2 linked regions of the Homo sapiens genome follow. The protein of the gene in region 2 interacts with the protein of the main gene of each other region in a pairwise test. Each region holds a gene or a part of one and is shown on either strand. Other genes may lie near its edges.

Region 1 (3,810 bases), on a different chromosome or scaffold from region 2:
GAAGAGTGGGGAGGTAAATTTTAGTAACTGCTAAGGAACTCTCTTAAAATGTATAGTGCACCCACGTGCTTTTCAGAATGCAGCATTTGGGCAAGTACTCACTGTTGTACTTTAAGGCAGGGCTCTCCAACCCCTGGGCCACAGAACCAGGCTGCACAGCAGGACGTGAGCTGTGGGCCAGCCAGCAAAGCTTCATCTGTATTTACAGCCACTCCCCTTGGCTTGCATTACCACCTGAGCTCTGCCTCCTGTTGGCATTTGATTCTTATAAGAGCGTGAACCCTGGTGTGAACTGCACATGCGAGTGATCTAGGTTGCACACTCCTTATGAGAATCTAATGCCAGATGATCTGTCATTGTCTCCCATTACCCCCCAGATGGGACTGTCTAGTTTTAGGAAAACAAGCTCAAAGCTTCCATTGAGTCTACATTATGGTGAGTTGTATAATTATTTCATTATAGATTACAGTGTAGTAATAATAGAAATAAAGTGCCCAATAAATGTAATGCACTTGAATCATCCTGAAACCATCACATCCTCCCTCTCAGTGGAAAAATTGTCTTCCACGAAACTGGTCCCTGATGCCAGTCTGGTCCTGGAGTGCTGCTTTAAGGTCTTTGAAAAGAAGAACTGGCAGGACTTAATGTTATTTCCTTAAAACATTGGGATTAGAAGTTGTAGATGACAGTTATTTATATAAACACTGAAAATGTTTTTTAATAGAAGCAGAATCAAGAAAGTTGGTTTTTACACAATTTTTTAACTTCTATACATTTTTATAACTAGTTCATAGACCACTTTCATCTGTCTCATTTGATCATGGACAGTATGATGTGGAAAAAACACAGGATGGTCAGAGGATCAAAGGAAGTCACTTAGCCTCTCTGTGCCTCAGTGTCTTAAGACAGTCTTTTAAAAAGGCATCTCTTTATAGATAAGGAGTTAAAATTAAGTTAAATGTCAGATCCTGGCTTACAGAGCAAGTGATTTAGTGATTGTCAGAACTGAAGCTTCACCATTACTTTAACTATATTGAGCCAGAAATAGTTAAGAACTAAATGGCCCATAAAAATATATGAGGGGGGTCACATGGAAAAAAGTAGAGATTTGGAACTTAGGGAACCAAAATTATGAGAGCATATAAGCCCTTCCACTAATGAGAATTTAGAAGTGCAAATGGGTCCAGGTTGGTACAAATGCTTTAACTCTCATATGCCCAGGGGAAATAGTGGTTTTTTTAAATATTCTTTTAGTCTTTTACAAATAATTTTTAGAAATAATAATGGGAGATAGTGCAAAACAACTTTATTAGGAATTTTAATGTGAATTTAACAATAGCAAACCGAAATTTATATTCTTTGTTTTCCTGATTTTGATGTACATATAGTCATCCTTCAGTATGCTAAATGTGGGGGATTGGTTCCAGGACCCACCCACCTCTTTGGCAAATCTTGCATACTCAAGTTCTGCAGCCAGCCCTGTGGAACCTGAGAATAGGAAAAATCAGCCTTCCATATACTTGGGATGGATCTGCATTTGGTTGAAAAAAATCCACTTATAAGGGACCCTTGAAGTTCAAACCTGTCTCGGATTTGCATCATCAAAATACAATACTTGAGGAATTTTTGAAACCTATTGCTTACAATTTTGTAATTGTCATCCTTGCTCCATAATTGCAAAACATTTTTATTTTTAGATTATAAACTTAATTAGAATGATAAATTCGGTGAATATTTTTATTTCATTTTCCTTCCAGTCACCTTGTGTACACATCTGCCTTCACCCTTTGTCCATTTGCAACCAAATCAAGTAAATTTTGATGCATAAACATTGTAAAAGATGAGATAAAACACTCACACCTCCTTTTAGAAAATGGGATGATCCTGGCTCTTACTGTGAAATATTGCAAGATGAAGTCCTTCCTGCTGATGGCTCTCCCAGTGAGAGTACATTTCTTGTTTGTCTTTTTTTTCTTTTTCTTGTCAATTCTTGGGTGGGAGAAAAGCCTTCTAATATTTCCTCATCCAAAAACTCATAGTCTGAGATTTTTGCAGTTAATTTTATCATGATTAGTCTAGAATACGACTGCCTTTCATTTTGCATTCACCTTCTTCGTCTAATAATGATTAATGCCTTCTGTCAGTTTTTTCTCTTTGCCATTATGAATGGAAAATGAAAAATTGTGAATTCCCATCGGTGTTCAGTGAAAGCTAAAAGTAGACAACAGGTATGATGTCTTGAAAGATGATGATGAAATACTTTGGACAATACAATGAGAAAACTAATATCTTAAAAACTATTTAGTTATTTTTAGCATAGTTGAGAATAATGAATTATAAATAATGAATTATAAATAATGAACTATTAAAAACTATTAAAAAACAACAGTTTTTACATTTGTTTCAAAATGTAGGGAAAAAATACGCTCACTAGGATTCCATCATATTTCTTAGATTTATAAGAGTTCAGTGGACTCATTTGATAATTGCAAGATAGCATGAGTTTTAGTCTGTTCTTTTAAAAAATAAGTTTTCTCTTTGTTCTTTGGAAGACTTTTAAGAAAGAATAAAAGTAATGACATCTCAATCCTAACAAGTAACTAGAACTGCTAAAAAAAAAAAAAAAAAGGCAACTGAAAAGTTAAAATTTTCTCTCTTAAAAGTTAGCTCACTGATAAAGGCAGAATTTTTAACTTCAACTAACAACTGTGGCTGCCATCTAAGTTCAGAGTACTAGGTGCTCTAGGACCCTACCCTGCGAGGCAGTGGGTCTCAAAGTGTGGTCCCCAGATAAATAGCATCAGCAATCATTTAAGAATTTGTTGAAATTCAAATCCTAGAGCTCCACCCCAGACCCGCTGAATCTCTGGGGCTGTAGCCCTGCAGTCTGTTTTAACAAGCCCTCTAGGTGACGCTGATAGAGGCAAACTTTTGAGACTCAGCTCTGGCTGTAGGAGAACTAAAGGATTCTGCTGTGAGGTAATAGAAAAGGAGTAAATTTGAATGTGATGAATATGCTTAACTTCCTAAGCAAGAAAAATGAACGCTGTTTATAGTTACAACTGACAGGGGAAAAAAACTTGAGAGTTACAGGTAGACTTTAGATTTCGTAATACTTATTTTTATGCAAAAAAAATTTAATCAACCAATTTTTTTTCTAGCTGGGATCTAGCAATTGGGAGGCAGCAGACTTGGGTAATGAAGAGAGAAAACAAAAGTTCTTGAGACTTATGGGTGCAGGAAAGGTAAGCATCAGATGGTGTGCATTTTTACCTTTTCTGTGAAAATATTGCCATTTTTATGTATGCTAAGTAAGAAGGACTGAATATACTTGGATTCCATTTTCCTGTTCTGTGTGATTTCTTTTGGCTTTGGGAAATACATGTGGCCTAACCAAGCACATAAAATTTATATTATTTTTGAGCCACTTCTAGGATTCTCTGTCCGTATAGTTTGAAGACTGTACAGAGAAAAATTTGGTTCAAGGAGGCTGTATAGGAGAAAAGAGATGTCAAAGTTTATGATTTGCCATATGTTGGCCCAGTGGTTTGATAGAATATATTTCTTCTGGGTAGGTTATCTTGTGGGAACCTCTGGCCAAAGTGAAAAGGCTGTCATATTTTATAGCTCCCTCCAGCCCTTGAAGTAGTAACCAGAGGAATATCCTTTATCAAAAACTTAATTTTAAGACTACACTTTCAGAGATTATTTCTATAGTTTGTTACTAGATAGAGAAGTTTCTCTGAATGTGTAGAACACCAGGGGGAAAGAAAACCTTAATTTTAAAAATGTTCAAGATACTTTGAAATG
Region 2 (4,511 bases):
GCCTGCCCTCTGTAGGCATTTGAATTTGTGCTTCCCCTGACATGGACAATCTCCAGGGCCTCTCCCAGCTTTGAGTCTCAATAAGAAGTGACCACTGTAGGGTCTTTCAAACAAGCCAGGAAGTTCATCCTAAGACAAGAAAGTTTCTGGGGCTCCTCCAGTCCTAATGGGGAGGTAGCAATCTACAGTGTTGGGCTGGACCTCTCGGCTTCTCTGGTTTTCTAGTCTGGCACTAGAAGTGGTAAAGGAACTTTTTCCCCTCCCTAGTGGGAAAGGAGGTGCTGGCTGTCCTATCTCAGGGCAGAGTCAATAAGCCCAGCTCTCTGTCCCACCTGAGTCATCGAGTTTTTTTTAACCCTTCCTCTCCTAAACCCTTGGGTCATCAGGCACCTTGCTGCCTGTACAGCCACTGCATGTTCCTCTCCATGTTCTCCCTCCCCAAACACATAGACAAGTGTCTCAGGATCAAACTGGTGAACTTACTAACCTCTCTGGGCATGGGCTCGGCCCTGTACCTCTTTTTATCTACCAGCATTTAGCATGGTGCATTGCACATAGTAGGTGCTTAAACAGTGTTAGATGTCCACGGTGATGATTATGGTCGCTACTGTTGGCTTTGGAGGAGGAAGGCTCTGGCACTGGCTGCTTGGAAAAAGAAAAGGGATGGAAGATCTGCCATTCCTTCCCAAACTGGTGGTGATAGGTGTTGATATGGAGAAAAGAGCTCCCCCTGAAACCCACACTCACCTACACACACCTTTCCCAACACAGCAAGCCAGAGGCAGCCCTGCCCCGAGTGGTCTACCCCCACGCCCCAAGGCCCAGAACAGTTCTCACCGCCCCATGAGTGACCAAGTGGCAAGTTCCCCCATCTCTCCTATATTTTATCTCCTTTCCTCCTCCGTTGAAAATCTAGACTTCGGGAAAGGTACTGGCTGTTTCTTTCCAAGCTGCTTTCAAATCTGCCCCCCTTTTCCGTAATCTTGAGGTCCAGTTACAAGGTTCAAGTTCCCCTCTTGCCCCTTCCTCAAGGTCATCTGTCCCGGCTTAGAAAAGGTGAGAGGCCACTGCTGATTGTCAAGAAGAGAACAGGCTTAAAAAGATGAGCTGAAGTGGGGAGGCCGAGGAGCAAGCAGGCAGGGAGGGCTGTGGAGAGAGGCCCCGAGGCCGAAGTGGGTTGGGGTGCCTGAGAAAAGCGGAAGGAGGTCGGATTCACTAGGGGCTGAAGGAAAAAGATGGGGTTAGGGCCAGAGAAGGTAGGATCGTGGTGAGGTCTAGACACAGGCAAGCTTCCAAACCCTCAGTCCCAATTCCGTTGGCCGGGAAGGAGTGCATGCCAGGGTAGCCCGCCCTCCCGGCTCCTGCTGCTCTCACCCCGCCCCTCTGCAGAAAGCCTGGGCAGGATCGCAGGGGTGCGGGCAGAATCCAGCGCTCCTCTCTCCCCATCCAGACTCTCGGCCCACTCCCGCCTGGCGCGGCGGGCAGTCGGAACTACCCAAAGACTGGGCTCGAGGTGGGGGGCGGGGGCGGGGAGGAGGGGGCCAGAACGGCGCTGCAGGTGATCCTCCTCCTTGTTTAAAGTTTGCGGTGGGCAAAGGAGTCGGCTCCGTTGGGCCGGGTTTTCTCGAGCCTCGCCTTCTTCCTCCGCCGGTCCGGCGACCACTTCCCTCTTGGCTCCCGCCCCGCGCGGGTCCCCGATCCCCTCTCCCGTCTGCATCCCTCTCTGTGCCCGAGCGCCCCCCGCTCCCTCCCTCCTCGCTGGATCTCCCGCAGGACGTGAGCGGAAAGTGAATGGGCAGCCCCAACCACAAAGACAAATTACCATGAGAAACATAAATCGGGAAATCGCCGCTCGCGTCCCTGCTTCCAGCTGCCGCACCCCTCTCCACCCTCCCAGCCGGGAGTGCGGGGCCCTGAGCCACTGCCCCTGGAGCCTGGTGGGCAGAGTTCACGCTCCGCAGGCCTGGTCAGGGCAAGAGTGTCCTGGAGGCGGGTCTGGGAAGAATCCGGGCGGCGGCTCCGCAGGCGGCGGCGGTGGAGCAGGGACGTCCCTGAGCGGGAGATTTCACACTCTGGGCGGGCCACGCGTTCCCACGCGCCTCGCCGCCCGCACTCTCCCTCAGTGCTGTTTACTAGCCGGCCCTCTCTGAGCCTCCATCTCCGCACCTCTGTCCCTCCGTCCCTCAGCCTCACTCGTCCGTCTCCTTCTCCAGGCCTGGGTCCCGGGTCCCCATCGCCGCTGCAGCCCAGATGCGCCGACCACAGCCCTGGCAGGGCCCAGTGCAACCCGGACCCAAGCTGGCTGGCGGCGGGAACGCAGCAGCGATGAGGGCTCTCAAGCCGAGGTGGCAGCGGGAGGCGCGGAAGCCAGGGGACCCCCTGTCCTCCCGCCCGCAGCCTCACCTACCTGGCTTCAACTTGCCAGAGCCCGGACCCCTACCTCTCTACCCCGATACCCACCCGAGTTGCTGAAGTTTGCAAGTTGCAGCCCCAACCCGCGCAGGGGAAGCGCCCGGGGCTCCCGGGACTCACCTCCCAGAGGCGGGTGCAGGTGCCCGGTTCCCCGCGGCTCCCGACTCCCGGGCGGCGCGGAGCGGCGGGAGCTAACCAGATGGGCTGGCGGCCGGTCTGGGAATGGGGCGGCCGCGCAGGAACGGCCTCCAGCTCTCAGCGCTCCGGTGCAGTCCCCACCCGGGCCCGCGCCCGCTGCGCTCGGGCTCCCAGCAGCCGCTGGATGCGCTGCCGACCCGCCCGGCTCGGCGGAGCTGGGCTCTGGCACCAACCCCCGCGCTCCAACTAGCTCCCGACCCGGCGCTCGGAGAGAGCAGGGAGGAGGAGACCGCGGGAGCAGAAGGAGGGAGGGGGCGGTGGGGGAGGAGTTGCAAGCAAAGGGAGAGAAGGAGGGGAGCGGGAGCGAAAAAGAGGAGGGGGCTGGAGCAGACCTGCCGCGGCGGGCGCTGCACCCGCCAGCCTCGAGGCGCGCGGAGGAGCGCGAGGGGGCGCCCTGCATCCCGCGGCTGCTCGGCCGACTCCCGCCCCGGGCCTGCCGAGTGTGGTGACCAGCCCGGTGGGCCGAAGCCCCTTCCCCGGCCGGCATTCCGGCGGCAAGACCTAGGACTCCGAGCACTTGCCGCCGTTTGCCACATCCCGCCTTGCCGTTCTCGGTCACCCCATCTCGAATGTGACATCCCCGAGGGCCATCGGCGCGGCCTGCCCACCCCAACACTCAGGGCCTGAGGAAGCTCCCCCAAACCCCACTCCGGACTCCCACATTCCCCAGCCCCGTCAGTTCGGAACGATCTTCCTGCCTGTGGATTTGAAGGGGAAGGGACCTCGTGTAAAACGGGGGAGAGCCGTTATAACCTGCAGCGGCAGAGAGGGAGGCTAGGCTGCTGGGCTGGGCTGGAAAGCCAGAACTGGCCGGATTAGGGTTAACCTTGCAAACTGTACGATACCGAGCGAACCTCTCCAAGCCTCAGTTTCCTCAGCTGTAAACTGGGGTTAGTAATACGCACCCTACAGAATTGTGAAGAACGAGTAGGGGATACGGGGAGTAAAATAACATCAGGAACAGTGGGAGGGCAGCCAAGAGATGAGCGATCCGGGGAGGTGGTGGAGCGTTCTCAGCTGAGGACGGAAGGTTTAGCGCAATCACAAGGAGCGAGGCCGAATTGTTTACAAGTTTAAGTGATCTAGTGTTTCTGATGGCTAGAAGGCGGGAGAGAAAGATTCAAGGGGCAAGCTTCAAATCCTAGCTGCCCGGGCTGCAAGAGGGATGGGAAGGGAGCCCTCTGCTGAACAAAAAATATATTTGAAAATGTAAAAAAAGGTGACCTAAGAACGAGTGAGAAAGACAAAGGATTTGAAAAATTAAAACCAGGAAAGTGTGATTCTAAGAGATAACCAAAGAGAACTATGAAATAAAAATAGATAAGTTGGAGGAAGGAAAATATCAAAAGACTTTCTAGAGTATGCCAAAAATTGGATAATTAGAACAAAGTCTGAGTGAAGCATTTTACATAATAAAATTCTGGGTAAAGGAAAACCCAGATAAAGCAGAAGAATTGAGACACTAAGAGCCCCAGAGAAGCACCTCCTGCCTGCCATCCTCCTACCCCTGGACCATGGCAAGAAGCAGTTTGACAGGATAATGGGAAAGAAAGGGTGGTTCTGAATCCAAGAAGGGAGTTTATGAGACACTGTAAAAAGAGAAACAGTGCAAGATCTCAAAGATAGACTTTCTAGGGCAACAGAAATGCTGAAACTCATAATGTGCAGAATGGAGAGAAACTTGCAAAGGGAAAACACGCTCTGGACACAAAGGCAGAGATGCAGAGAAGAAAAGAAAGGAAACGGGCATGTGTGGGCATACCAGTCTGGTAGCCCAGTCTGGGGTAAAAATCAAGTTGGAAGAGGCAGCATGGGATATTGAGTCCAAATCTATCATTTTATCAACAAGGACAATGAGCTCTGGACCATTCTCCCAGAGTCCCAGGCTGAGATAGGGATAG

Evidence for each region.
Region 1: the proteins of SEMA5B (region 2) and C11orf58 interact in a two-hybrid assay, tested with the Homo sapiens proteins (one large-scale study listed by BioGRID and IntAct).

The regions. Positions count from the first base shown.
Region 1 is NC_000011.10:16,741,440-16,745,249, forward strand, and holds part of C11orf58 (small acidic protein), read left to right. Parts: exon of another isoform or gene 1-2,228; intron 2,229-3,161; coding exon 3,162-3,245; intron 3,246-3,810.
Region 2 is NC_000003.12:123,024,932-123,029,442, forward strand, and holds the start of SEMA5B (semaphorin-5B), read right to left. Parts: upstream 2,833-4,511; 5' UTR 2,533-2,832; intron 1-2,532. UniProt on the Homo sapiens protein: May act as a positive axonal guidance cue.